2 separate regions of the Homo sapiens genome follow, and region 2 is linked to region 1. The links come from fine-mapping of genetic effects on gene expression. A gene starts in region 1. The other region holds a variant in brackets. All regions are shown on one strand. Distances are between the middles of the regions.

Region 1 (15,139 bases):
TTCATCTAAGTGGCTCAGAATCAACTATCTGACTTAGAAGTAGCAGGTCAGATGGAGATGTGAGTATGTGTGTTTGCTGGACAAAAAAGAAATGAGAGCAGAAATGAAGGCTGCTTGCTGGGAGGAGCCGGTTCCAGCTACCCATGAGAGACAGGACTGTGAGGCTGCACAGAGAAGAAGGCACTGGAGAGTAACAAGAGCATGCCATGTTCTGTGTCCAGTTAAGCAGGCAGGGGAATGTGTGATGTAATTCAGAACTCCCAACCAAAATGGTAAAAATTAGAAATCAGGCAAACTTCTGCGTTCAGAGATGTATCCAATTAGAGAACCGCCTCCTGTTTCTGTGATGTCAGACTGTGGAGCACTACTCCACTCCCGCTGGCTAGGACTGAGTGGGCGTCAGAGTGGGGATTCATGAGTGGCATTGTGTGGCTTTCCTGATAATGACTGGCCACCCAGCCACGGGCTGTGCATCTGTCTGGTTGCTTCTGCGATGTCATGAGGCCCATGGCCGTGCCCGGATTCGATCTTGCCTCTCCTGGGTTATTCCCAGTTGGTTTCAGCTCTCAGGTGGAATCTTCTGTCTTTGAAGCTTATTGGCCGAAAGCTAAATGGCCGTAGATTTGGAACCATGCCCAACATTATTTCCTTGGGAAGGAGATAAGAAACGTTTTCCTTTTTTTAAGCTTTATATGTACCCTTTCCAGGAGGGCAGGAAATGTTCAGTCAGGTTGGGATTAAATAAAATCCATCATGAGCCTTACATTTGAATGCTTGTAGGCCTCACTTGTTCCAACAGATGAGTTTCCAAAAAGTTGTTGTTGTTTTGTGTATGTATAATATAATTATTTTCCTCTCAGAGGTGCTTTTTAATAGAAGTGAGCCCTTTCACATTTAAAAAACTACACAATATAGTTAAAAGAGAGCATGTAGTCAGTAGAAAAATGAATTTAAACTAGCTTATAGTGTACTTCATGCAATCATAATTCCTTCTTCCAGCGGAAGGAAGAGGAATGCTATGGCATTGGAAATGATGGAAATGATGAGGATTGCTGATCAGACTTGAAAGGAAAAAAAGCTTTTTTTTTTTTTCATTTTAGGAACTAGGAGATATTTTTCAAAATGTATGTTCAAAAACGGGAATTCCGGCTGGGTGCAGTGGCTCATGCCTGTAATCCCAGCACTTTGAGAGGCCGAGGCGGGCGAATCACTTGAGGTCAGGAGTTCGAGATGAGCCTGGCCAATATGGTGAAACTCCATCTCTACTAAAAATACAAAAATTAGCCAGGTGTGGTGGCAGATTTCTGTAATCTCGGCTACCCTGGAGGTAGAGGCATGTGAATTGCTTGCACCAGGGAGGTGGAGGTTGCAGTGAGCTGAGACTGCGCCACTGCACTCCTGCCTGGGCGACAGAGCGAGACTCCATCTCAAATAAATAAATAAATAATAAAATAAAATGGGGAATTCCAAGAAAATCTATCATAATCTCTCTTTTTCTTACTGCATGCAGACTGTAAGTGATGCATTTGCAGGTGGGCAGCACTGCCTTTCCCACACCTGTAGCTGTGTCAGGTGAGGCAGGACAGGAGACATGAGAACATGGTTCTGAGCCTCTTGGTCTATCTGTGAACAATGTAGGCAGAAGGTGATATCTGTCCACCCTGAGGAAGTCAGCTCCCAGTGCTGTTCCCCACTGGTGTCTGCCTGTGTGACCCGGGGAGAGTTCAGAACCTCACTGAGCCTTGGTTTTCTCCTCTGTAAAACTGGGCCATTAATAGACATCCCTCATGGTGGCCAGTGAATGGGTGGAATTAGAGCAGGTAATGCTAACAGGCCTGGTATGTGGCGAGCATTCAGCAAAAGTTATTATTTCATGGTCTGTTTCTTATTTGCCCACTTTGACAGAGTAGTGAGGCATAAGCAAGGTCTCTTGTCCAAACGTTAGATACAGTTAAAACCACTCAAAGCTCTCATAAATCAGTCTTTTGGGAAATATGTCCATCTATGTAATAGTTTCTCTTGTTTTGTAGATTTGGACTTCCTGATCAAATAGTGACCATGATTCAGGTATTAAATCATCAAATACTTGGTCATAACAGAGGCGACTCATGTAAAGGGGCTTACTACCTTCTTAGAGTGAAACTGTTTCCTTGCTAAAAAAGCCAGCAGCAGAGAATATCCAGGGATTTTGTTAAATTCCTAAAGAAAGAACATGAGCAATGAAGTGACTTACCCATTGAGAATCCCCGAGATCAGCGAGAACTTCCAGAAAACTTGGGAATCCACAGAGAGGTTGAATGACTGAGTGTGGAAGCATCTCATGACTCAGCTATTCACTTGGCTGACCTGTGGGCTGCCGTAAGCGGGAGAATGAACGGGAAGAAATGCACAAGGGTGTAGGTAGGATGCTTCCTCCCCGATGCGTAAGGTCAACACTTTTCTTTGCAATTATAATACCAATCTGTGGAAAACAGACTCAACTTACAGAGGATGTATTGGCTTTACCTTCAACATTTCAGGGATGTCTTTAATTTGCAAGCCAGTCAGCTGAACTCACTTAATATATCAATAGAGAATAAGGACAGATGACATGAAATAATTGAGCAGGAAGAGAATTCTAAAAGTCATGGAATTAATTGCCTTGCTGTGTATTAGAAAAATGTCTAGATTATTCCAGGCTTATTCTGAAAAATGCCCAGAGAAAGAGAATCCATAATATAGACTCCTTCAAGCTACTTGTGTTTGAGCACCCTTTGTCAGGATGTTTTCCTCATTTCTCAGTTACACATCTCCTGCTGCACTTTAAACTTCCTTCCTCCTGTTTTGTCTTCTGCTGAAATGGATACTCAAGTGACCATGTTACCTAGAATAACTCATGCCAGAGTTCCTCAAATGTGATCTGCAGAACATCAGTCCTACGCAACTTTCCATGGAGAAAGAATCCCCAGGCACTATGTTTCAGAAATGCTGCCTCTTGGAGATGCACAATGCATCTGAACATGAAATTAAAGGCTCTGAGAAGTCCTGCAGCAGTAAAACTATTTCACTTCTTTAAACCAGTGTTTTTCAACTTCTTACATTTTTAAAAATTTTTACCACAGAATCTCCATCCCCCTTTTATAGTAATGTCTGCTCACATACCCCCAAAACTCATCCAACAAATACATTTTGGAAAACTCGAAGAGATCTGAAGCTTGTTGCAATGGATTTGAGTGCATGGACCCTCAGCCATGAAAGGTTTTTTCAGTTGGACCATTCTGTGGCTTCTTATCAACCTTCTTAAAGTTCTTCACACCCCTCTTGAGTTGTTCAGAAACGGAAGTGGTTTTGATAAGGCACTGAGTAATGTGATAAAACACATCCTCTTCCCTATAGTCCTTATAAGTCTTCTTAAATAGAAGTCTTTGAGAAAATAACAGTAAGAGTTGGTCTTATTTGTTAGGTTTAGAGCTACCTTGCTAGGAAATGTCCACAGCTCTGATGCACTCTGCCAGGCAAATGAGGTCGTCTGCATGGCTTTTGCCTTACACTGTAACAGCCAATTCCTATGCACGTTGTTAACCAAATCAAAAATTGTAACATGGATTTTTTTACGATCACTTTTCTAACTAAAACCTTTTGATGAAAACATTGATGATAACCTTTACTCACTATCCTATTTATGAAATCTTACTCACAATCTGAGAAAGATGCAAATACCAGCAGTGAGTTGTATGTAACCAGGTTTTCTCAGTATTCTTTTCCATCTTCCTAAACACTGTTTTCAAGTGTGACATTTGTCCTTTCTCCCAAGGCATTTTTGGTGCTGACACACCACAGTTGGACCTGGTTCCTCTGGTGCTTGGATTTCAGTCTCCTGGAAAGCTGTTTTCTTCTAGGTGTTTTTTGTTTGTTTGTTTTGTTTTGTTTTGTTTTGGTGCTGCTGAGGGCTCTTACCTCTGACCCTCCTCTGCTCATCTAGCAAGGCCTGAGGTTTGCTGTCTGCTCCTCACCAACTGGTCCAGGCTGAAATTCCTTCTTCCATGGTGTCCCTTCTGTGCTCAGAGGCAAAAGCAGAAAGGAGGGAATTGCTCTTGTCCTGTTGTTGCCTTTGTACCGATTCCTTTTCTGTACATCTTGAGCCATGAGGAAAAGTTTCTGGTATTAAAGCCACTAAAAGTCAGAAGAAGTGGACTGTGGGGTGGGTGAGGATTGCATCCAATTCTGGGTCTGTCACTAACCTGCTGTGTGACCCTACACATGTCACCTGCCTGGCCCTCAGCAAATGGTAGCCATTAGTATTGTTCTCCCACCAGAGTCTTCACTGTAAAGTGAGGTCATTGGATTCAACGACTGGGTTTCTGCTTGAAAATTCTGCGGATACCCAAGTGTATTAATCAGATGTGCAGCTGGCTGCCTGAAAACTTGACAGACTTTATTGCTTGGCTTTTGCCACTGGAGTGATCTTTGAAAAAGAGAGTTGGAGTTACTAGGTTTTCAACTTTATGTAGAATCACTGAATTTCAGAGCTCATATACTCCAGTCTATTATTTTACAAAGATCAGAACTTACATTTAAAAATATACTGAGTAGGTTGTAGCAAAGTTTTGAAAGAGAGACAATAGTTTTTATCTACTGTCAAGCAATGATAAACGTCTTCCTTCTTCTTCCTTTCTGCCTCTATTCCTTCCTCCCTCCTTCCTTTCCTCCTCTCCTCCCTCCTCCCTCTCTTTGCTTCCTTCCCTACGTCTTTTCCTCCCTCCTCCCCTCCATCGTCCCCTCTCTCTTCCCTCCTTCCTCCTTCTTTCCTTCTTTTCCTCCCTCCCTCTCTCCCTCGTTCTTTCCTTCCCTCCTTCTTTCCTTCCTTCCCTCCTTCCTTCCTTCCTTCCCTCCTTCCTTCCTTCCTTCCTTCCTCCTTCCTTCCTTCCCTCCTTCCTTCCTTTCTCTCGCCCTTCCCTCCTCCTTCCCTCCTTCCTTTCTATTTTTCTTAGATGAAGCCTATCCTAGTTATTAAGTGATTCCAGATCCTTCTTTATTTCGGTGTTGCAAAATAAACATTCCTTGGTTTTGGCCGTTTCAAGCACCTTGGCATTATGATGGGGAAAATGCTGGGCAAGAAAAGACATTTCTATATTAAGGAGAAGCAGGGGAGTGCAGCCCAGCAGGGATGCGAACCAGTATTCCCTGGGTCTCAGATTCCACACTAGAGGAAGAAGTCTGTAGAAAGGACAAAGGAAAGAAAGGTTGGTGTTACTCTCTGGTATCCTTAGACAAAGTAGAAGCTGGCTTCTTCCATTTCTGGGAGACAGCAGTGAGCAGCCCCAAGGGCAGGCATTCGATTGTAGTGCCTAGGTCACCTCACTGTGCCGCAAAGTGGCTCTGGGATGGAAAAGTGTCTAGCTCTGCCCTCACAGCTCTGCCCTGGGAAGCTTCCGAGCTGGGGCTTAGCCCTGCACAGCTCCACCAAGGTCCTGCTGCTTTTCGGTGTGTGTTCATCATTCTCATCCCTCTCAGCTTTCCTTCCTACTCTTAGTGCAGCCTCACGAAGCCTCACAGTCCCTGGACAGGGATAGGAAGCCTGTGTGGGCTCCTAATGTGCTGTTTGACCTTGAGTAAGTTGCTTCAATTGAACGCTTTATTTTCAGACTCTAAAAGGAATATCTGCTCATCATCGAAAATTACCCCAATTTAGAAAAGTATAAGGGAGAAAATAAAAATCCCATAACCCCCCCACCAGAGACACTCAGTGTTGGAACTCGGTTGTATTTCTCCCCCAGACTAACTTTGTCTATGTCTGTATCTGTATCTCTATAGAGACACTCAGTGTTGGAACTCGGTTGTATTTCTCCCCCAGACTAACTTTGTCTATGTCTGTATCTGTATCTCTATAGAGACACTCAGTGTTGGAACTTGGTTGTATTTCTCCCCCAGACTAACTTTGTCTATGTCTGTATCTGTATATCTATAGAGATCATTCAGCATTTCATCTGAAAAGCTTCATATTATGTCTCTAGTTTTCTCATGCAATTACTACATAGCCGTCATGGAGATGCAGCATTCTTTTGGTAACCCACTTCCTATTGGACGTTCAGGTTGCTTCTAATGAACGGTGCTACAACGAACACTTGTAGTGTAGATATTTGTTCACATTTATGACTCCTTCCTTGGCTATACTCCTAAAAGAGTCAAGAGATGTAAACAAAGTGAGCAATTAATTTTCTAGGTATCACCTTTCTCACCTATAGTAAAACAACAACAGAAACAACAATCACTGATAGCAGCGGACACTCACATAGCATCTTGTTTGCCAGGCATGTCTCTAAGGGCTTATGTGTACCAGCGCATTTAATCGTCCCAGTTGCCCCGTTATTATCTCCATTTCACAGAAGTAGCTTGCCCAGAGTCACACACAGCCAGTAAGTGGGGTGGTAGGATTTCAGCCTGGGCAGTCTGGCTCCAGAGTCGTGCTCTTATCTGCTAAACTAGTGTTGCCCCTGTGGGATGAAAGAGCTAAAATGAAGAATCCCTGGGGTCCTGTTACCTGGGAACATCGCTAATGTAGCATGGAATCCTGCAAATAATGCTAGAACGGAGTAATGCAGTTGCCTGATAAGAGTTCACCGGCTCCTGTCATCCTCTTCGTCCTCCCATTTGTGTGTTTGACGAGCTTGGGGTCTCTGTGTTTGTGAGTGCATGTGCATGGATATGCAAGTGTTTGTATAATTTTATGAATGGAACAGAGTCCGCAGTGTGTGAAGCAAGAAAGCCTGAACAATCTATTGACACAATAAAGCACTCATAATTGATGCTGTTAGTTATAGATAACTCATCATCGTTTCCTTTTTATCTTAAGGTTCCCAGGCACGTTGGCTGGGAAATGTGTCATTTTATAATTGGAGTTTCACCCCGGTGGAGCAGGAATAGGATGGGATTTGGCTGTCTACTGTAACCCCATCCCCCCAAAGCATGTCTGTACTTACCGTCTGAGGAGGGTGCTTCCCCTCCTTGAGCTGATTTGCCTGTGCTGTCCAGAAGCATTGCTGGATATGATTATCCAGTAGAAAAGGAGCTAATCGACAAACTTTTCACTGGCATAACGTGTCCACATTGCTCTTATTGCTCGCTAAATATAGAGGTTGCCAGGACCCCTTGAAATTTTGATTCAGAAGATCTGGGAGAAGCCTGAGAATATGCCTTTTTAAAAAACATGTGCTCTGAGTGATCACCTTCATGGATTTTGGGGAAGTCTTAGGTAGCAGGTCTCAACCTTCATAGGATATCAGCATCACCAGATTCTTTTGAAAAAAGTACCACTTCCTGTCCTTCTGCTCACTGCCTGCCCTAATTTGAATAACTGATCTAGGGTGGTTTCCAAGTTCAGGATTTAAAAAAAAAAAAGTCTCTAGAGGTTCTTGTGTGCAGCCATAGTTGGGTACCTCCAGCCCAAGAAGTTCTGCTGATAATATCGCACCTATACATTTAATTGCACTTCACATTTTACAACTCTCTTTCACCATTGAACATCGTAACAATTCACTAAGGTCAGTAAAGCAGGCATTATTATATTGTCCTTGGCCGAGAGAGGTTGACTGAATTGCCCGAGGCTGCACAGCTTCTCCCTCAGTCAGCAGCAGCTGTTCCCTACTTGGCTCATGGCCAGTCCTGCCAGTTCTTTTGGAAGGGGCAGCCTCCACTCCCCTGAGACTCACAGGATGAAATCAATTGCCTCTCCTAGTGCTGATGCTCGCGAGGCTCTTTCTTCCCCTTCTCAGCCACATCTTTTCTACTGCAGCCACTCTTCCTGCTCAGAGGGCCTCTCTCTGAAAGGTGCAGTTGCGTTCCCCTCCCATGCTCCATCCCACTTAACGGTTAGGTCATGGCACTGAGGGATGGACAGCTTGGAGCCTGGACAGTCCACATCCTCCACCGTGGTCTGAGGACAGAGACGTGCTGCCCCCCAGCTCCAGCCCCTTCGATGCCATCCTGCAGAAAGCACTGTGCACGCTGCATGGCAGGAGCCAGTAAAGTTCCACACCCCCATCCCAAATTCTCACATCCACCACCAAAGCTTCCTTCACCCCTGCATCCCACCGCGGATAACCTGAAAGCCCACCTGAGTCCTTCCTGGGAGGCGGCTGTGTGGGGCTGGAGCCCCCTGCAGTGGTGAGTCCCACTCCGGACACCTGGCCAATGGGAGCTTAACAAGGTGGCCAGCGAAAGAGAAACAGAACCCGGTAACGGCATCTGCCCCTTCCGCCATCCTCCACCCCGCAACCCGCTGCGGGCTCAAAATCTCTCCTCATTCAAACCGAGGACTTTTGTTTCTCTTTACTGTTCCTCTCCTTGTCCAGACCTTTTCCTTCACACAGGCTGTATCTTGGAGAGGCTCCCAGTGACTGTAGACTTCCTGTGTCAGAATCCTGCAGCCTCTGTCCCTGGGCTGCTTGGGCGGAGTGGGAGGCTGCGGGAGAAGGCGGGGTTTGCCTTGCAGGCAATGCGGGCAGGGGCGCTGCACCCAGGGAAGAGTTCCAAATGCTGATTCTCCCCATGGCCTTTACCTACCTACCTATTCAGCAGCCTTGCAACTGAGACGAAGCCACCCCCTAGCAGACTTTTGCAGGATATCGTTCACTTTCCTCTCTCAGGCCCTGCCCACCACGGGTTGTTGGTTTTGTGAGTTGGTGTGGGGGAGTCAGCAGGGTCCTCAGTGACTTTTGATCTTTCAGCGCTGACTTTCAGGAAAGGTAAGCTCTCTGCCAACAAAGCTGGTCTCCGCTGTGCCTCCTCCTCTTATACAACAACCCTAAGTGGCTTTCCTGCCAGGTGAGAGGATTTGCAAGGACTGCGGAGGAATATGGGACCGACGAGCTCTCCTTTCTCAAAACAGAGGGAGCCTTGGTGCAGATGCACAAAGTGGTCCTTGAAGTTGCATGTGGCCCGGAGCGGCTGGCTTGGTGGATCTTTACTGTTCTGGTTGGGCATTGTCAGGCAGCTATCAGAGGGCCCAAGAGTCCTTCACAATAACTCGTTATCACCCACAAGCAGCCAGCCAAGTTAGTACCTGCTTGACCCCGTCCTGCTGACAGTGGATTGGACCAGGGTTGAGCCTGAGAGCCAGCCAGCATGAGCCTCTTTCCTAGAAACCGTTAGTCAGGAAAAAAACGTTCTGGTTCAGTCTGGGCTAGCCTCTCTATGGGAGAGATGGAAAACCTCCCAGCCATGGGAGCTGGAAGGGGTCGGATCCATCCTCCAGCTCCGCTTTCTCCTTTTGTAAATGCCAAAAAGAATTGGGGTCCTGAGTGATGACTTGATTGGCCCAAGGCCACGTGGCTACTATGACTACTTTATAACAGAGCTGGATTTTGGAGTCCAGTGTGTTAATTCACTTACTCCCTTGGCTAAGACACGGAGCTTCTGAAAATAATCTCTTATGAGAGCTTCCATTCAGCTCAGACTTTGAAGAAATGATAGTTCTTGCATACTATATACAGAGAGAGCACAGGTCTCAGTATCAGACTGATCTGGGCTCAAACCCTGGCTCTCCGAGTCACTAGTATTGAGATCTTGGGCACATTTCTCATACACCTTGTGTTCCTCCAGTATAAAATGGGGATCACTCTGGTCTCACAGAAACATGGTGAGGGTGTTCTATTGAGTAGAAGATACGCTTAGCAAATACTCATTGCTAAATAAAACAAGGCTTCCTGGTCAAAATGAGTAATAGCTCTCTCCTTCCTAGTGCTCTGATTCTGAAGATGGTGTAGTTGTGGAATTATTTAGTGCCCTCATGTTTGTGGTTGGGACCAGAGAACAGGGGCCTTTCTTTTGCTTTTCTTCAGACCCCGAGAGCCTGGGTGTCATCAGTCAGCCCACGACCATCCCTTGTGGGCTTGGGAAAACTCAGACAGAGAGGGAAATGTGAGACTCTGGCAATGTGAAAAAAACAAGTACCTCTCTATTACTTATTTTCTAGTCTTGTGAAGTTTGTTCAACCTACAACCCAGCATTGATTCAAGGCCTCCTCTGTGACCCCACCCCAGCGGCAGTGCGCCCACTGGGTAAGATAAAGTGAGAGGTGCAGGGACGCACAGGTAGAAGGAGATCCTTCAGGCCTGGTCACATCTGAGGTTATGGGGCGGTGGCCTGATACTCCTGAGACAATACGCTTTTTGATACTCTTTTGAGGGTGGCTGCAGAGGACATTGGCTTGTACCTCTGGCCCCTCTGTTCATTCTTCACCTCATAGAATGAACATTTGCAGGCCTGCATTGAGACACTGTTTTGTCCTTGTTATGTGCTTCATGCCCTAAATCACCACATCAGAATTCAATTCCTAGTCACTCACCTGTCTCCAGAACAAATCCCTATGGAATATCCATCTTTCTAGACCCAGAGAGGGTCCTGCCTCTCTCAACCCTCCCTCTCTCCTCATGACTCGAAATCCTAAATCTCCTTCAAAGACCACCTAGCTCATATCCAGCTCTTCATGAAGTCTTTATGTGGACTGGACCACTCCTTTTGCACTCAGCAGAGGTTACCTTGTGTTGCTGTACATTTTTAGACTGTAAGAGTCCTTTCTAGAGATACATGTGCCACCAAACCCTCACCTCAGGGGGGTCAACAACCTAGTTGAAAATACGTCTTAAGTGTAGTTGGGCTGCCATTTTCTTGAAGGCAGGGCCCTGTCTCATCGTTTTTATTCCTCAGAGCACAATATCAGGGAACTATAGGCTGCATGTAACAGTGGCATTAAAAAAAGAGAATATTTTTTATCTCATATGAAATGGAGTCTTGAGGAAGGACAGCTTCAGGATTCGTAATGCATCAGTTAGCTATTGTGACATAGCTAACCAATTAAAAACCGAAAAGTTTGAAACACCACCATTACTTTATAGCTCCCAATTCAAGCAGGTCAGCAATTTTGGCTGGGCTCAGCTGGGCAGCTCTTCTGGTCTCACCTGTGCTTCCTCATGCATCTGTGATCCCTCATGCATCTGTGGTCATCTCTAGGTTGATCAGGTGGTGCTGCTGGGGGTTGTGTGGCTGTTGGCCAGGGAGCCTCAGTATCCTGCCCATGTTGCTCCCATGTCTCTAGCAGGGCAGCCTGGAGTATCCCTCTTGAGACGAGATTTGGAGTTGGTGCAGTCACTTCTGCTGCAGTGCTGTTGACTAAGACTCAGTAATGAGGAAATAGACTCTGCCTCTTCGTGGGAGGAGCTTCAAGGTCACATTGCCAAGGGCAGGTGGAGCATTGGAAGCATTTTTTGTAGTGGGTCTGCCATAGCCAATGATGTTAGGGCTTGAAGAAGTCTGTTCTTAGGACTTGCTTGGCTTTTTGCCTCATGCTCACAGATGGCAGCAGCAGTTCCAAGCATCATGTCCTCACACAACAGTGTGTGAAGGCAGGAAGGGTTGAGCCTAAGGATGAGGAAAACTTCCCCAGCTGTCTCCTATGAGCCTTTCCTTAGGCTGTGGTTAGGGCGGGGCTGTCCTAACCAGAATAGACCAACGGCTAGGATTACCATGATTAACTTAGAGTCATCCCTAGGCTGGGAGGGACTTGTCTTCTTCTTCTTCTCCTTCTCCTTCTTCGTCTCCTTCTTTTTTAAATTAAATTTTTTTTTTTTTTTTAGACAGGGTCTTCCTCTGTCACCCAGGCTGGAGTGCAGTGGCGTGATCATGACTCTCTGTAGCCTTGATGTCTCAGGCCCAAGGGCTCCTCTCACCTCGGCCTCCTGAATAGCTGGGACTACAGGCACACCCACCATGTCTGGCTATAAATTTTTATTTTTATTTTTTGTAGAGACAGGGTCTTGCTATGTTTCCCAGGTTGGTCTGAAACTCCTGGGCTCAAGCAGTCCTCCCACTTTGGCCTCCCAAAGTGCTGGGATTACAGGTGTGAGCCACCATGCCCAGCCAGCCTGTCTTCTTTGAAGTGTTGGCTTCCAGAAACCTGAACAAAATTGGGGTTCTGAGAGCACAAAGGCAGTAGTGAGGGGTGACAGCTGGGTTGGGAACCGGTAGGGTGCAGAAGAAGAAACTTACGTCGTGTCTTGTACCCACTTATTTTTTTAAATAGACATTGATATTAAGCCTATAATGTGTGAGGCACTAGAGAATTAAAGGTGAGCAAAACTTTAATCTTCTAAGAAGGTCATGTCTAGATGGCAGATACGAGTAAACAGCTGACTGAAGTACAATGGTGGTAAATGGTAGAAGCGGGGGCTTGGGGATTTAGGGCAGACTTTCAGGGCTTATGTGAGGGCTCAGATCCTGCCCTGCTGTTCATGCCTTATCACCAGTGGGTTCTGACAGTAAAGACCAATGCAGGCAGCAAGGTACCACTTTATTAGTATCTAAAGCAGGACCCAGCTACCTGCAATTCAGGGCTCTCCAGTAAAAGACTGAGTTGAAACCCGCAACTGGGACTACAGGCCAAAGTGGGGTCTCCTACTCTCATCGACCTTGGAGCCAAAATCTGTGACAAGCTCTTTTACAGCTGACTTTCAGGAGGGTGAGAGAACAAGACCCAAAAGTGGTTCTAAGCCCTCTTACCCAGCTGATTTCATGGAGTGAGAATCATACGGACAGAAAGGAAAGGTGCCCGGTCTGACCCAAGGGACCAGGGACTGAAAAGCAAGCTGGTTTTGAGGACTGACCTAAGGCACAACAACTCTGTTAACTAGTAAAATGTAGCCTAACCAATGTATTGGGTTCAACTGTTGGGACTGGGAATTTAGCATTCTTGGAGTCTATATAGGAGGGAAGCTAATAAATGCAAACTGAGTACTCCCATTTTTCTAAGAAACAGAGAATGATTTTTTTTTTTTTTTTTTGAGACAGAGTCTTGCTCTGTCGCCCAGGCTGGAGTGCAGTGGCGCGATCTCTGCTCACTGCAAGCTCTGCCTCCCGGGTTCACACCATTCTCCTGCCTCAGCCTCCCGAGTAGCTGGGACTACAGGCACCCGCCACTGCGCCTGGCTAATTTTTTGTATTTTTAGTAGAGACGGGGTTTCACCGTGTTAGCCAGGATGGTCTCGATCTCCTGACCTTGTGATCCGCCCGCCTCAGCCTCCCAAAGTGCTGGGATTACGGGCTTGAGCCACCACACCTGGCCAAGAATGATTTTTTTTAAATTATTTTTTTCTTTCCTTTTTTTTCCTCCATTTCTCCCTGTTCCCACTTCCTACTTAGCCCTTTATAAATGTAATTCTAACCTTTACCTTCCCTTCAGCAGACACTCCCTATAGGGCTATTTCATCTAACTATGCGCTTAGAAGTTCCAGAGTGGAACTCTCCCACCAGGAGACTTCCTCATGGGACAACAGTCAACCTCCAACCCAAAGTTGCTTGTTAGGAAACTCTCTCCCACCTGGAGAGTCTTGGCTACCTTGAACAACCTAGTCCTGCCCACAAAGACATCAACTCAGCTGTCTGATAGATAAGGCACCGAAGCCAATATGTGTACCCCGACCTGCTGGTTTCCTCTCCTGCATGTCATTCATGCTAGGCCCCCTTCAAAAAGAACCTTCTTTCTGTTCCAAAAGCAAAGTGGTGCCCTTAAGGCAGGAAGCCTGTACTTCTTCCCCTAAGGTAGCTATGGAATAAAAAGTCGCTGTTTTTTTTTTTTTTTTTTTTTTTTGACGGAGTTTCGCTCTTGTTGCCCAGGCTGGAATGCAATGGCACAACCTTGGCTCACTGCAACCTCCACCTCCTGGGTTCAAGTGATTCTCCTGCCTAAGCCTCCTGAGTAGCTGGGATTACAGGTGCCTGCCATCATGCCTGGCTATTTTTTTTTTTTTTTTGTATTTTTAGTAGAGACGGGCTTTCACCATGTTGGCCAGGTTGGTCTTGAACTCTGACCTCGGGTGATCCACCTGCCTTGGCCTCCCAAAGTGCTAGGATTGCAGGCGCAAGCCACCACGCCTGGCCAAAAGTCACTGTCTTTATACCAGACCTCACTCTTGTTGATTGGACTCTTCCTGCAGTGAATAGATCAGGTGGACTCTGCAGTAAGTGATACTGTGAAGGCAGGTAACAGGTGGTCTGGGTAAGTGAGGAAGAACAACAAATTCTTCTTTGGCACTGGAGGGGGTCAGGGAGGGTTTCCCAGGGGAATTAACACTTCAGCAGGGCCTTGGAAGATGACTTGGAATTTTCATTGTTGAAAATAAAATTCTTAATAAAAGAAATGGCTTGAACAAAGGTATGGGGGTCAAGAATAGGATGCTGTGTTCAAGGAGCTAGGAGCTTGGGATATATGGAGTGAGAGAAAGGGTGCAGGAAAGGCTAGAAAAATAAGTTGGACTCAAGATTGCGAAGAGTCATGAAGCTGCTTAGAAGTGGGATTCATTCTGAAGGCCATGGGAGCAAGCAGGAGTTTTAGATCAAAGTGACATGCTCAGGTCACATTTAGGAATGATGCCTCCGGCTGAAGCAAGATGGGAGTGCGACAGACTAGCATTGAGGGCACCCAGTGGGAGCAGTGTCTGATATAGCCAGTTGCAGGGAGACATGCCCGGGTGGCTCGCCTAGGAGAAATATTTTATCATTGACATTGCTTATAATTGCTAGTGATATTGCGGAATATATATTTGGTCTTCATCCTGTTTCCTGGCATAGGGATCTCCAGAGTGATTTCTTTTTGTATGTCAATGAGTTTAATGATGGCTGGCAGCCCCTGGATAGCTTCAGGACAGTGGCTGGTCACTGAAAAGACCAAGGCAGGATTATAGGGCTGGAACTTTCAATCCTGCCCCCCACAAGGGGTGAGGGGCTGAAGGTCAAGGCAATCATCAATGGCCAGTGGTTAAATCAATCATGCCTATGTAATGAAGCCTCCATAAAAACTCCAAAAAGGACTGGTTTCAAAGAGCTTCTGGATAGCTGAACACATTGAGGTTCCTAGAAGGTGGCACACCCCAATAGGGCATAGAAGCTCCGTGTCTCTTCTCCATACCTTGCCCTGTACATCTCTTCATCACTATCCTTTGTAATAAACCCATAAATGTAAGTAAGTTTCCTGAGTTCTGTGAGCCACTCTAGCAAATTAAGCAAACCCACGGAGGGGGTCATGGCAACTCCAGTGTATAAAACCAGTCCCTCAGAAGCACAGGCAAAACAACCTGGGGCTTGTGACTGGCACTGGAAGTTGGGGGCA
Region 2 (14,920 bases), 28 kb before region 1:
TGGTCTCCCTGTTTCTGACCAGGGAGTAAGAACCTGTCTTGTGGGGATGTGGGGCACTTCCCTAGAGCAAGGCCCCTTCTTGGCTTTGGGAAGGACCAGAGGATTAGGCTGGAAGTTTTTTCATGGAAATGGAATTCGAATTGGAACCTTATGTTGGATTCTCTGGGCTTCAGAGCACGGCTATAGCATGGCCTACATGCGCCAGACCTGGCCTCCTGAAGGTCTGCTGACCCTTTGAGTTGACAAGCACATGCCTTCTCCCCCAAGGGAGAGGCTGCATGCACATCCTTTTCCTGTAAGAATGCCCATCGGGTGAGGAGATAGTGTAATACAATGCCCATGTACATCTGCATGAATATGTGTGTGTATATGCTTGCACATGTATGTGTGTGCGCATGTATGTGTGTGTGCATTTGTGTGTGTGTGTGTGTGTTTAAAGAAAAAGGAAGCCACAGAAGGTTAGTTCTGCATTCAGGAAAGCAGATGGGTAGGATAAGCATTGGGCTGCTCTGAGCTCTCACATTGTATTCACTCCCTGGGAGGCTGCTCATTATAACTGCTCAGCTGGGTTTGAATCTCCACTCCGTAACTTATTATTTGAGTGACTTTCTGCAAGTTCTTGACTTCTCTGAGGGGACCAGTTATCTATTGCCGCATAACAACATACCCAACACATAGTGGCTTAAAACAACAATTTATTATTATTATATTCACAAATCTGTGATTCAGGAATTAAGTCATAGTGGGAACGTTCTGTATCGCTTTATGATGTCTGAATCCTCAGCTGGGATGGATTGAATGGCTGAACACTGAAACAGCTGGGGACTGTTTGGGGACTGTCTCTCTCTCTCTCTCTCCCCATATATATATGTACCTGCATATCACTTAGAGTTCTCTAGAGGGACAGAAATAATAGGATATATATCCTATTTTATATATATATATCCTATTTTATATATATATAGGATATATAGATAGATATGAGAGTTTATTAAGTAGTATTAACTTACATGATCACAAGTTTCCACAATAGGCTGTCTGCAAGCTGAGGAACAAGGAAGCCAGTCCGAGTCCCAAAGCTAAAGAACTTGGAGTCCAATATTCGAGGGCAGGAAGCATCCAGTATGGAAGAAAGATGTAGGCTGGGAGGCTAAGCCACTCTAGTCTTTTCACATTTTTTTTCTGCCTGCTTTATATTCTAGCTGCGCTGGCAGCTGATTGGATGGTGCCCGCCCAGATTGAGGGTGGGTCTGCCTTTCCTAGTCTACTGACTCAAATGTTAATGTCCCTTGGCAACATCCTTACAGACACACCCAGGATCAATACTTTCCATCTTTCAGTCCAATCAAGTTGACACTTGGTATTAACCATCACAACGTGGAAGGAGTGATATGAATGTATGTATGTGTGTGTGTGTGTACGTATGACTAGATAGACAGTCCTTGAGGGCGGAGGCCATGACTCTTTTGTTCCCCACTCTATACCCAGGGCCTAACACTGTACCTGGTGCACAGAAGATGCTTAATACGTATTTATCAAATAAATGAACAGATTGTTCTCAAGTCTGCCGTATGTATGGTCAAAAGAAAGAAGGCAATTATGACAAGAAAGAGTGAGGGTAGGAGAGGCAGTCCTCTCAAGGAGCCTTCTTTTTATTCTCTCCACATGCATAAATATTGCTCAAGTCATCTCTGAAATGGGTGGAGAATTCCGTGTATTTTGCAGTTAATAAAGCCTGAGGTGCTCAGGGCTCACAGATTCTTACCTGCATACTAGGATGATATAAAAGGCCTGCATGAATTGATACAGGCTTTTCTGATTAATGGGTTCTGGGAATAAATGGTAGATACAGAGTACTTTGAGATTTTTCGATGACAAATCAGTTGGAAATGTCCTCCACTGTAATTTTTACCTCTCCATATTTTGGCTGTTAGTATAAGATCCTTCAGCTTCTGCCATCCTTCATCTTATCCTCAGAAATGGCACTTCCCAATATAGAATGGTACAGGAATACTTTAGAATAGAGGGAAATGAGGGGAAATAGCACCGAAATGATGAGTGTGTTTGCGTCCTCCCTCTCTATGCCTCTGTGCTGTGTAGAACGCAGCTGGTAGCACTTTTCCTCCCCCGCGTCCCCTCTGAGAATCAGGCCCGGCTCAGCGGGGAGGGGTGCATAAAGCCCACTCCTGCCCGGAGGAAGAGCCTGGTTGTGATGTCTGCTGTTGCAGTATCAGGCCAGACAGGAATTAGGGGAAAACTGCTGTCATCAGGGAGTTGCTCCCACTGTTGTTCTTCGTAAAATGTGGTTCTTTCTACCAATCAGTAGGCAGATGCCCAGAGACCCTCAGAAATGGTATAAGCCTAGAATTGGCAGCACACATCCAGGCTCTGAGGCTTATAGAACCAGGATTAAAACTTACATTGGACCTCAGTCCTCTGGTCTAAGCCCCTCTCTGTGCAAGAGGGGAAACTGAGGCCCAGGAAAACGAGGTGACACAGGTGAATCAGCAGCCTGGCCAGGCTCGCAAGTCAGGCTTTTGACTCCAGCGTTAGTGTTCAAGGCTCCAGATGTGGACATTCCTTGTAAACTGTAAAACACCCAAACAGGAAGATCATTATTCATGTTGTTACATTCCTGTGTCCCTTGGTCATTTGGATGGGACATGTAAATGAACAGCAAGTGGGAGTACATTTGAGAATCTCCCTTCTCTTCAACAGCCATCACCTCACCCTCTTCTCCCTGAAACCTCTCCCACCCCACCCTCCACAAACTGATCCTCCCCTTCCCTGGACTCTGGCTACTGCACTGTTTCCTAAACCTGGGTTTGGCTGGAAACAACACCCAAATATCAGAGAGGAGGATGCGTGGGAGAAGGTGGACTGTGAAGGGCTTGGGCCGGGCTTTCACCTACAAAAAGAAATGGATGCAATGGACATGCTCCAAAGAAGGGCAAGACAGGTCCCCTTCACTTGCTCACTTGCCTCACATCGCTGCTGGCCCCAATCCCCAAACGTCCCAGCAGGTCTATGTGGAGTCCGTGCTCTCAGCCCATCGCAGCAGCATCACCCCTCTCTGTTATCAGGAGTCTGGCAGCCTCTGTAATTTGTGTCTGGGAGGAAATGAGATCCTCCTTACACAGGGCCATTTCCAGGCTTCCTGAACCACTGAGAGTGCTGGAGGAGGAGGGGATGAATATTTTATAAAAGGCCATAAAACATAATTTGTTCCTTTGAGTGAATTAGAGACTGTAGTTAAAAAAAGAGAGACGTTACCATCAGTGGACCAGGAGTTTTGCATTATTTAGCCCCAGCTATTTCATTACATCTGTAAAGCAGGAGAACCAGAACATTAAAATCACACCCTTTGCTCCTCAGGAAGGGAAACAGAATCTTTGAGGCCCAAATACATACAACATAGACTCACTAGGCAAGGAGCAGCGGCTACCTGCCTGGAATGTGCTCACAGGGGTGACATGAATGCTTCGGGTGGAAACAGGCAACCAGCCTGTCCAGCTCACCACACTGCTCCCATCTAATTGCATCAAAGGGGGAAAGGTGAGCCAGTGGACCTAGCGGGGTCTTCCTTTTCTGTTAGGATCTTCCCTAACCTCCCCTTTCCTCCTTTCCTGAAGCAATTTCCTTTCCTTCTCCCAGACTGGAAGGGGAACTTGAGCCCCGAATAGAGAACAGCCTAAAAGTGGACATCAGACATCCCTGTTCCAGTCTCTGCATCCCACCAGGAATAGTGCCTCACAAGTAATGTCTTTGAGACCTTGCCTTCCCATCTTCTTTCGGGGACCTGTCCTATTCAACAGATATTTAGTCTTCTCTAATTTCTTCTCTTTTTCAACCATAGGCTTTTCCAAATGTCTGACTCTGGGAGAAAACTGAAAATCATTTTTTTTGATGCAAAGCAATTTAACTTCCTTTGCCTTAAGGTCTCCATCACGAACCATATCCTAGTCTTGACCATTCTTAACCATAAAGTCCTTTAGTTTGTTTTCAGAACTAAAAATACCTTTTTACCCCATGGATTCCACATCTACCAAAATAAGCAATAGATATGAATTTTAAAACTACAATTTCGTTAACTGTGCCAAAGGCTTAAGATCAATCTCTTGGAGATCATATTCAAAGAACTTATGCTTCCTTCCAGTGGTAGAAGAGGCAGGAAAATATTTTCCTCATTTTTACAGAACATGCCCTGAAAGTCATGGCTTTTTTGTTCTTCCATGGACTGGCATTTGGTATTCCTTCCCTTTGTGCCTGCTATTTGGGGCAATTCCTGCAATTGAACGTGGCTTTGTGTGTCTTGTCCAGCTCTCCTTCCATCAACCCACTCCTCCCTTCTACACACATACACACACACACATTCTGTCTCTCCCTCTTTCTCCCTCTCTTTCTCTCTCTTTCTCTCCCCTCTCTCTCTCTCATGCACACATGCGCAGCTGCATAGAATTTGCTTCTACTCCATCAGTGCCTTGAGAGGGGATGGTGTTGCAGCTGAAGAGAGATCCTTTTGGACCTGTGTCATTCCTTATATCACCTGCTTAGTAACAAGTGCTCTCTGCACATAAGCCACCTGGTCCTTTGTCTCTTCTTCTTGGTTGCTTGATCCTCCTTCTGTCCCTCATTGTTACTCATTAACTTACATTTATCGAGCACCTGCTTTGTGAAGGACATTGTGCTAGGCCAGGGGGAGAAGGTATAATAACAGGGTCTTTGTCCTCAGGATCCTTGGAGTCTATGAGAAACTTGTGATTCTCTCTGACCTGCCGCTTTGTCCTGGGAGAATTTGCTATTTATGACCTTTTGGGGTAGAGTAATCCTGCTGAACAGGGAATTAAGAGATCTAGATTTCAGTCATTGTAGCCATTAAGACTATGGAAAAGTCATTTGCTCACTTTATACTCTGATTCTGGCATCAGCAAAATCATGCAGTTGTTTGAGATGAGGTTCACCATCCCTCCTTAGTGCTTGATTTCTATGATCTTATGTTCTTATGTTCTATAATACACAAGTGCCTCCGAATGTGAGGCTTGGTGAGAATAGGGTTTTGTGGTTAAATACATCTGGGAAACATTGGGTTACATAATGTTAAGGGATGTATCAGAGGCTTTACTATTCTAATGTCTATTGTGAGGCTCTCTGAGACAAAGTGTAAGATTCCTAAACTCCCTTCATTGGGGTGGGTGTTTATAAATATCAAATCAATTTTTTATCAAACTAATTTCTTTTTCTTCTGAGTTAAAGAATTTACATCTCTAGGTGGCTGGTTCTTTGATCGGGAGTGGAACCCAGATCACGGCAGTTTGGAATCCTAACCACAAGGCTACAGGGTGGAGTGCCTTGTCTGTGTAAATATCTATCAACATGGTGAGAACTAGAATTGTGTAGAACACAGTTTGGGAACATGAAGAAAGAGAGCTCCCCACATGGGCTCTGGACTCAAGACTGAGCGCATTTTTTGAAGGGTCTCACCGTGTCACCCAGGCTAGGGTATAGTGGCATGATCATAGCCCCACTGCAGCCTCCAACTCCTCGGTTCAAGTCATCCTCCTGCCTCAGTTTCCCAGGGTGGGACTACAGGCATGTGCCACCATGCCTGGATAACTTAAAACA[A/AT]TTTTTTTTTTTTTTGTAGAATGGCTGCATTTGAAGCCTGCTCAGGTACCCACTAGCTCTGTGAGCTGGTAAATTAAACTTCCTGTCCTTCTGTTTTCTCATTTTTAAAAGGAGGCTAGGAAAAGCTTCTACCTCATACCTCTTAGCAAAGTGCTTGGAATGCAGTATGCATTCAAAAAATGCTTATCATTAGCTATTACTATCTTTAGTCAATATTTATTGAAAAGTTAGTAAACAGAAGAAAGTTACAACATTTTATCATAAAGACTTAGCTACTGTCCATGACCCCATTGGAGATGCAGATAGGACACCAGAGTTAGACAACAGGTTGCTATCATTTCAGTGGTAGAGTTAGGTCAGAAAATGGACAAGGAAGAGCAAAAATTCAGACCAGTTTAATATAAACAAAGTGAAGATCTCTGTAGAAAGCTGTGGTAGGAGGAGAAGTAAGCAATAGTAAGAATGAAAAAGTTGGCCAAAGTTAGGCTTTTGAAATTAATTTCATGATCCATGTTCAATTCTCTTCTTCTAGGCATAGAAAATAGAATATTAATGATCTCTGTATTGTATTTATCTTCCAAGCAGGAATGCAAGTAGGCATATTGGTCAGGAGAGACAGGGTTATGCTGCAGTAACAAACAGCCCACAAAGCTTAGTGGATTATAGCAAAGGACTATTTACTGCTCAGACTACATAGCCATCCCTGGCATTCCTAGGGTTCTGGTCTATGTCTTTCAATCTGGGTTGTAGGCTGATGGGGTTGCTACCTTCTCAAGTGCTATGGATCATTATGGCAGAGGAAGAGAGCATTGGCAATTAAGTGCTGCAGGCCAGATATGACACATGGCACAACTTATCAGCTAGAACTAGTCACATGACTCTCACTCAATCACATGAAAACCAAGAAAGACACAATCTTACCATGTACCCAGGAGGTGAACAAGCTGGAAATGTTTGTCAAATAGCAGCAATGACTACCATTGCCTGCCATTAGGGTCACAAAATGTTTGTCTCCCCCAGGCAAAATCCACTTACTTACTGCCTAAGGAAGACAGCCTAAAAGTCCTACCCAGTCCTGGTATCAAGCTGAAATGCTAGGGTCTCTTGTGGTGTGTAACAGGGCAGTTTTCACCTTAGGGAGCGGCATGTTCTAGTCTCCACATCAGGTGTGAATGTGGATCCTTTCCTTTCTGAGACTTAGGCTCCAAAAAGATAAGTAATCGTTTCTTTCCCACAAGACAAGAAAAGATTCATTTGAAGTAGGACAACTGCAATCAATATTCTCATTCAGAAAGGGGGAAGACTAGGGAAGCACAGCAGTCACTGGTCCATAACGACTCTGAAATCCTGTGAAACACAATTCGACCCTCACTTAGCTGCCTGGGAGTAGATCCCAGCCCACCGTTCTCTGCTTATGGATTGTCCCTCTGGAGGGTCTTCTTTCTGTTGCCCTCCTTGCTCCTATCAGAGATGGGAATTGCAGATGATATTGAGCAGCTTTCTTGGCCGGCTTCTTGTCCATGATAATTTAGGGGCCCAACGGTACATTACATTTTGAAAAGTCGTGAATGGTTTCGTTCAGGTCATGGTTCCTTTGGCAGGATGACTGTCTGAAAATCTTCTTAGGCTTTTTCCTATGTGTTTCGGGCAGATCTATGTACTGATAGCCAATAACCACACCTATGGTTACAGTTGTTATCCTATTCTAAAGGAGCCATTGTATGTCGTGCTATGGGATAGAGGCAGATAATTTGTCTTTTGGGTTTTTAAGTCTCTGAATTGCAGAAATCCATATTCAAAACTGATGTAGAGACTAGCACATGTCACTCCTTAATATAAAAACTACTACGCACTGCTAGAGAACCTAGCATTTCAGCTTGATACCAGGACTGGGTAGGACTTTGGGGTTATCTTCCTTAGGGAGTAGGTAAGTGTATTTTGCCTGGGGGAGCCATGGTTCTTCTCAACTTGAACCTAACAGCAATAATTTGGGTATATATATTATTTGTGGGATGTTACAGCTTTAGTCTTGTTTTTTCTCTCGCTCTTACTTGAGCCAGTTTGCCCAGTTTGAATGATTTTTTGAAGCCATAACTTCAATTAAACTTTTGCCCTAAATGACTTATTCCATTCAGAGGAACTGACAATGGACATGACTGCCCTGTGCTTGATTTGTTCCATGGCATGAGCTGAAGCACTCATCAGTCTTTCTTGTATAAAGGTCTTTTAAGTTTTGTTTACTTCTTTGGGGAATGAGAAGCAGCTGTCTCTGTCTACACTGAAAATCCCCACATTTCTGGACTCTCTCCTGTCCATTTCATCTCTGCTTTCTGGCCAAATCTTTTCTGAACTCATCAATATCTTGCACTACATTGTCAGATGCAGCCAGCAGTGGCCACCATACAATATAACAAGCTGTTTTTCAACCATCTTCCTAGATATGCAGGATTTTAGGGATATAATCTGCTTTCTAAGTTATCACAGATGACAGTTTTCAGAATATTTTTCCATTTGTAACATGGATTGCCTGCAATGGCCTCCTATAAAATTTCTTCAATACCTGTCATCTGGCCACAGAACCAATGTCACAAGTATTTTTTTAATTTTTAAAATTTTATTTATTTATTTTTTTGAGACGGAGTCTCACTCTGTTGCCAGGCTGGAGTGCCGTGGTGCAATCTCAGCTCACTGCAACCTCCGCCTCCCAGGTTCAAGCGATTCTCCTGCCTTAGCCTCCTGTGTAGCTGGGACAACAAGTGTGTACCACCACACCCAGCTAATTTTTGTATTTTTAGAAATTGGGTTTCACCATGTTGGCTGGGATAGTCTCGATCTCTTGACCTTGTGATCTGCCCACCACGGCCTCCCAAAGTGCTGGGATTACAGGTGTGAGCCACCATGCCTGGCCATGTCACAGGTTTTAACTTTTTACTTTTGGCAGCTTCTTACTTCAGTTTGGGTAGACTTGATTCTGCTATGGGAAGAAATCAATCCCTGAATACCAGAGGATTAGAGCAATAAGGGTTTGTTTCTCACTTATGCTACTATTGCTTCGGCTGGGGGCCAAGCTTCCTGCCACCTTACCCTGTAATGCAGCTCACTCTGACAGAGCAGCCACCATCTTGAACAAAGCTGGTCATTGTGGCTGGCGTGAAGAAAGCTCTGGGGGCTTTCCCATGAGGAATTAAATATTTTGGTTCAGAAGTGACACATACCACTTCTGCTTATAACTCACTGTCCAGAACTACTTGCCTGGTACCACACAGCCACAAGTGAGTGAGACAGTAAAATTCTCCATGTTCCTGAAAAGTAGAGAGCTGGAGACATTTGGAAAACAGCATTAATGACTATCACAGGAGGAGAATTGGATGAAGATGTAGGCTGCAAACTTAGGATACTAACAAGCTCTCTTGGGATCCTCCCCGAAAGGATAAGGAGTTCGTTATAGATTTATTTCTTGGCATGGATAGTAATTTCCTGAGGCTGTTGATTGGTGTGGCACAGATGTCTAATGCATTTCTTTTCTAATATACAGCTTCACCCAAGCGAAAGCTGTTAGATTTTTCTCTACTGAATTATGGAACATCATCATCACCATCACTACTTTGTAACTGACATCATCGTCCTCATTAAAAATTGGACTAAGCAGCTAATTATAAATAGTGCTTTTGTATAGCACATGTGTTTTCATTTGTCCCCCTGACTCCATCCACTTGGCCACAGGGGAAGCCCAGGAGGAGGGAAATGGCCACAGTGCATCCAGAGACGAAATGAATAGAAGGGAACTTCAGGTCAAAGCGTTGTGCTATCAAGTGTTGGCAGGGAACATCAATGAGTTTGTGGAACCAGTGGGTGCTACTGCAGGAAATTAACCCTCGAAGTTCAAGATATCTGACTTCTTTTTAATGTAACTCTCAGATGACCAAATTTTTGGTGTGTGTGTGTGTGTGTGTGTGTGTGTGTGTAGAAGGAGGGGAACAAAAGGAAAACAGCAAAAATTGACTGCAAAGTATAGAATTACCCGGTCATCCATTTTTCTCCCCTTCTTCCCCAGGATTCAATGCTGTCTTCTCTCTCCAGCAGAAAAAGTAGGAGAAGGTTAAGAGAAGGAGTAAACATGACCCAGACCCTGGGGAAAGGGGTGAATGAGGGGACCAGAGAAGGGAGTTGGGCCAGGCAGAACGCTGTGTTTGGACAGAGGAGCTTCCACTTGGAACACGCTGAAGAACCAAAGCTCGAGGGCAGAGCCTTGCCCAGAGTGAGATGGTGAGAGGAGGGACACGGGCTCAGACTCATCACCCCTGCTTCTCACTGGCTCTGAGTGGTTTGGATTCCACAGTGGAAAGCTCAAGAGTGGGGTGGGTCATTCTAGGGAGGGTGTTCCGTGCTTGTGCACAAGTGTTGTGTTCTCTCAGTAAGAGGTAAGGGAGCTGACGACTCGCCACCCTGTCCTCAGAGCAGGGGCCTGTGGGTGACAGGACCATGAGGAGAACCATTTTCAGAGGTTACACAGAGAAAGAGGAAAACTTCAGGGATCGTATTACCAGAATGATGACAAGTGCACACACACACACACACACACACAGCAAAATAAAAATGTAAAGAAGCCTGGAAGACAGATCATTTATGTCATTTATATACCTGGAATAGGTACATTTTAGAACCTAGGGCAGAGGTCAGAATATAAATGGTTATCACACAATGCTTCACATTATCTGTGCTCATCTTGTGGGCACATACGTCCATTCTTAGGTGGTTCTTCCCATGGATGCCCCCCACGTACTCCTGACCTGTTGCAGATCATGTGTTCCACTGGAAGGCCAGCGTGGGCCCAGGAGGATGGGGCCCCTGGGGTCTAGTCCTGGTTGTTGGTTTCCAGGAGCTCTCCATCTCTTGGCTTTCCTTTGACTTCACCTACAACCCCTCAGCCTCCTATGCTGGCTGCCCTTCCTCCTGACCTTGACCGGTAGATTGAAGACTGCTGTGAAGGACTTGGTCCTGGTCATTTCTCCTCGTTGTCCATATTCTGTTTCTGCAGAAGACCTTGGTGCCATGAATGTATATATTTCTAGATGTCTTAAATTCATAAATCGTAAGTTTCTTTTTCATATTCCAGACCTAAATAAATAACTGCCTCCTTGATGTCTTAATTTGCATGTATAATTTCCCTCTCCAATGTAAAACATCTAAAGGTGAGGTCTTGACGCATCCCAACTTGTTTAACCCCTTGTCTTCCCTTTCTCAGTAAAGGGCGACACCTACCTGCCTAGTTGCTTGAGCTTGGCATTGGCTGCTTATTTCTCATGTTTTATTGATGACTAATTCCTGCTGATTCTATCATCTAAACATACCTCCTCAGTTCTCCTCACCTCCTCTCCACTCTATCTCTACTGACTCTACCTTTCTCTGGCCCAAGTCACCATCATCTTTTCCCCAGACGACTGCAATTTCCTGGTCTTTCTATTTCTTCTTCTACCTCTTCATAATTCATTCCCCTCCCAGCCTCTAAGTAAATCACATCACGTCTCTCCTCTGCTTGAAAACCATCATTGGCTTCATACCGCCCTTAAGATAAAACCTGAACACCTCACCCTATAAGATGGTACCCTTGCTAATTCTTCAATCTTATCTTGCACCTCCCTTTCCCTTGCCCATTCTCCTCCCAGCGCACGGCCTTCTTTTTGACCTTGAACACCCATGACCTTTCTAGCTCAGGGCTTTTGCACTTGTCAGTCTGGAATGCTCTTCCCTGCATTTGGCACTGTGGCCCCATTCTCTTATCTATTTTTGAGACAGAATCTCCCTCTGTCACCCAGGCTGGAGTGCAGTGGTACAATCTCGGCTCACTGCAACCTCCACCTCCCAGGTTAAAGCGATCCTCCTGCCTCAACCTCCCAAGTAGCTGGGACTACACGTGCCCTCCACCATGCCCAGATAATTTTTGCATTTTTAGTAGAGACAGAGTTTTGCCATGTTGGTCAGACTGGTCTTGAACTCCTAACCTCAGGTGATCCACCTGCCTCAGCCTCCCAAAGTGCTGGGATTACAGGCATGAGCCACCGTGCCAGGCTCCATTCTCCTCTTTGGATTGTCAGTTGAAATACTACCTCTTCAGAGGGAACTTTTCCAGCTACCCTTGCAAAGTTGAGTCCCCAAGTTCATTTCTGACATGGCATCCCATTTATCCTCCTCAAGGCATTTACTGCAATATGGAATTATTTTCCTTATTGTCTACTGTTAAAATTTTCTGTCTATAATGTAATTTATTACATGAAAATGTATGCTTATCAAAGCAGATATTTTGTATAGATCACTGCTAAATCCTCAGCACCTGGCACCATGCTGGCACTCAGTAGCTGCTCAATATATACTTTTTAAATAAATGAATGATTGCTATGACCATGGCAAACATCTGAATCTGGATACAACAACAAAAAATAACAACAAAATCTGTGCTGGCATGAAATTGGTGCTTGGTGAATGCTGGGGAAAAATCCCCTGCCATTGGAAGCCACTTGGCAGTGTTTATGGATGGAGCTGTGTCTTCCTTCACCTGGGAACTGGCATTTCTGAAGGTGTGATTGTACTCATCCTTAACATACGCTTGGGGGGAATGATCTAGGCATAGGGTTTTTCTTAAGCTAAGAAATGAGTCTATTTCACAAAAGAACTAAAAACAGAACTCTGATTCATGAATTTGCCAATGGCTTGTCCTTCTCAGGGGAACCTCCCTGGGCACAGTGAAACCCTTCTTGGGGCACGACCTCATGCTTGATGTGAAGGTCATCACAGAACATCAGCTCTGCCTGAAGGGTGGCCGGCAGCCCAGTCAGGCTTAACCCGAGGGGTACTCAAACGGAGGTTCTTGACACCTTATCAGGGTGTGTACGCTTCTGCAGAACGAAGGTTCCTTCCCATGCTTTGCCAGGATTGGTTTTGAAGAATTACTGACCTAGTTGACAGTCTCGTGAATAAAAATGGCAATGATGAAAACAAACCTGCAAATGAATCATTCATTATGAATTTGAAAACAAAAACAAAAAGAATCAGGGGTTAGTCAATTTATGACTCAGAAAATAATGACAGATAACTGGATAAGGGTAAAGTGACAGATAACTGGATGGGGGTAAAGAGTATCTTCTATAGTGTATTTGCTGTTGGTTTCCTTTTTTTTCTTTTCTTTCAAAAAGATTTTTTAAACAGAGCAACTTTTGTGTGGAGTCTAAATGGCTTAATTACATAGTCTGTAAGTGAGAAAACTCCGCTGGATGACTCCATGTACTTGCTTTCTCTCCCTTCACGGAAACATGCAAGGTGAGAGAAAGGAGTGGAAATGAGACAGGCAAGCATGAGATGGGCAAGCTGGCTGCTTTCCTGTTGTGATGTGGTTTGGAGAAAAAAGAACAAAAGCCCTTTACTCAAGCTGTAACTCCCAGCCAGTCAGCATCAAAGGCCCAAGAAGCTATTAACCACAAATTAATTAACCCCTTGCTTTAGAGAACTAAGGACCTTTCTGAGGCCCTACGTGCCTAGCTAGGCTTAACTTTCACCTCATCATGAACTTTTCCTTATTTTAGTACTAAAAATCATGCCCACAGGTGGAGATTTAAGATGCTAATGAGACATATGTTGTATGAAGCAGCATCTTAAGCCACCGTACATGTGCCCGAAAAACCTCACCTCTACATGCCCTGACTTCCCCTTACTGCAGACCTCCACAAAGGGAACCCACACCTTGACTTTGGAGAGCAACCCACTTCCTTTCTTGGTGTTTGGTCCCTTATGTCCATAAGCTTTCATAAAATCTTTCTCTTTGCTACTGTATGCTGTGATCTCTTTTGATTTCTATCCTGGGGGATCAAAAAAGCCCACAGGGCGTTGGTGCCAGAAATCAGCTGTGCAAGCACAGAAAGGGAGCAGAGGCTGTTGCCTGGCTCAACTGGTGAGGAGCAAGACTGGAGAATGAGCATGCAGTGAGTTCTAATACTAGCACATTTCTTACCCACTCAACACCTGATCCCTTCCCGACACATCCAGGAGCCTTGGTTCTCTCCTTCCTCCAACTCTCTGAGAGTGAATGCTGCTGAGAACCACTGTGGTTTTAAAATACTCCGTGCAATACAAAGAACTCTCAGATGCATCCTGTGGTTTGAGAGCACCTTTATGTGTCATTCTCATCATTAACCTCAATGAATGCATACTAATGATCTAATATGCACCAGAAGCTACACAAAAACACTTTGTAGTTGTTAGCCAATTCATTTTGGCTACAGCCAGCCAGAAAAGAGGAAACTGAGGCACAGAGAAGCAAATGTCAACCCTACCTGGAAGTGTCAGTCTGAAAAGATCAGTTGAGTCTTCCTCTACCAGACCCCAACTTGTCTGGTCTCGTGAAGAAAGACAGAAATGGATGGAAAACCATTCTTATCACCTTCTTGCTGGAGAGTTAGGGAAGAGTCAGCTGGTCCCTAACAACAAACTTTGCCCTACTCCAGTACTGCCAAAGGGGTCTTTGTTGTAACATGGCCTACAAGGAGAGGACATCTTTCTGGGAAAGCACCTAGAATGTGGCTGGCACATATTCAATGCCCAGTAAATGTAGCTATTATTTTTTCAATCAACACTCTTACATACCCCTTTTCCACTCACCCTCTTCTCCCTTTTTTTGGTCACCCAATAAGCAGAAATTCCAGATGCATCCTTCGGGGTGGTTGGGAGCAAAGGATCCCCAGGGTGCACTGTGCCCTGGGCTGAGGTATCTCTGAGGTGCTTCCATCTTCTGGGTCCTTCCTCACTGGGGTTGTTGCCTCAGGCTCTCAGGACTCCCCTGGAAATCTTCTGATGGGAAAGGCATTGATTGACTTGCCACCCTTTCTCTACCATCCCTTTGCAATTCTGGGAGAGTTGCAGCCCCGCCCTCCCAGGCTTGCAAAGGTAGACGGAGAATTATATTGGAATTTAAATCGGAAGCTCTCAAGGCATCTCAAAAATACTTTCTCTATTTTTTTTTTCCTGTAGATATTGGAGAGGTTGGCAAACGGGTCTTCCTGAAGACAGAAGAATGTATGATTTAATGTTTTCTTTAGATTTCTGTATGAGTGGATGCACAGTGCTCCGTATTGTGTGGTGGGGCGGGGTGTGTCTTCTTATTGATGAAATACACTGCGCAGGTCAACTCGGTAAATTGAAATGAGAAGAGCCGACTGCGGGGGTGGAGGGGGTGTGGTATTAGGGTGCCGGCGCTTGTGGAGGGGGGCGCGAATGTGAACGTGTGAAAGCGAGAGGCGTGCCAGGAGAG

Direction of the effects. Positions count from the first base shown, and alleles are read on the strand shown. Sizes are in standard deviations (SD) of each study's normalised expression.
For the expression in T cells of the gene that starts at base 8,434 in region 1, A is the low allele of the variant in region 2 and AT is the other (moderate effect, 0.61 SD a copy in GENCORD).

Evidence for each region. PIP is the estimated chance that this variant, and not a neighbour inherited with it, causes the effect.
Region 2: its variant is the best candidate, but not a certain one, in a credible set for the expression of KCNA6-AS1 in T cells (GENCORD, PIP 0.50).

What each region holds. Positions count from the first base shown.
Region 1 is chr12:4,822,338-4,837,476 of GRCh38, forward strand. It overlaps KCNA6-AS1 (KCNA6 antisense RNA 1), which reads right to left and starts at 8,434. Exons shown (of 3, transcript NR_199077.1): 1 at 8,093-8,434. It also overlaps a transcript of KCNA6 not described here. RefSeq lists enhancers at 1,376-2,575, 7,073-7,262, 7,323-7,482, 7,912-8,413 and a silencer at 3,172-3,372.
Region 2 is chr12:4,794,249-4,809,168 of GRCh38, forward strand. It overlaps KCNA6-AS1 (KCNA6 antisense RNA 1), which reads right to left. Exons shown (of 3, transcript NR_199077.1): 3 at 10,237-12,620. Among named protein-coding and RNA genes, the nearest start is that of KCNA6, 7.6 kb to the right of the region's middle. The variant A/AT (reference allele first, on the strand shown) is at 5,623.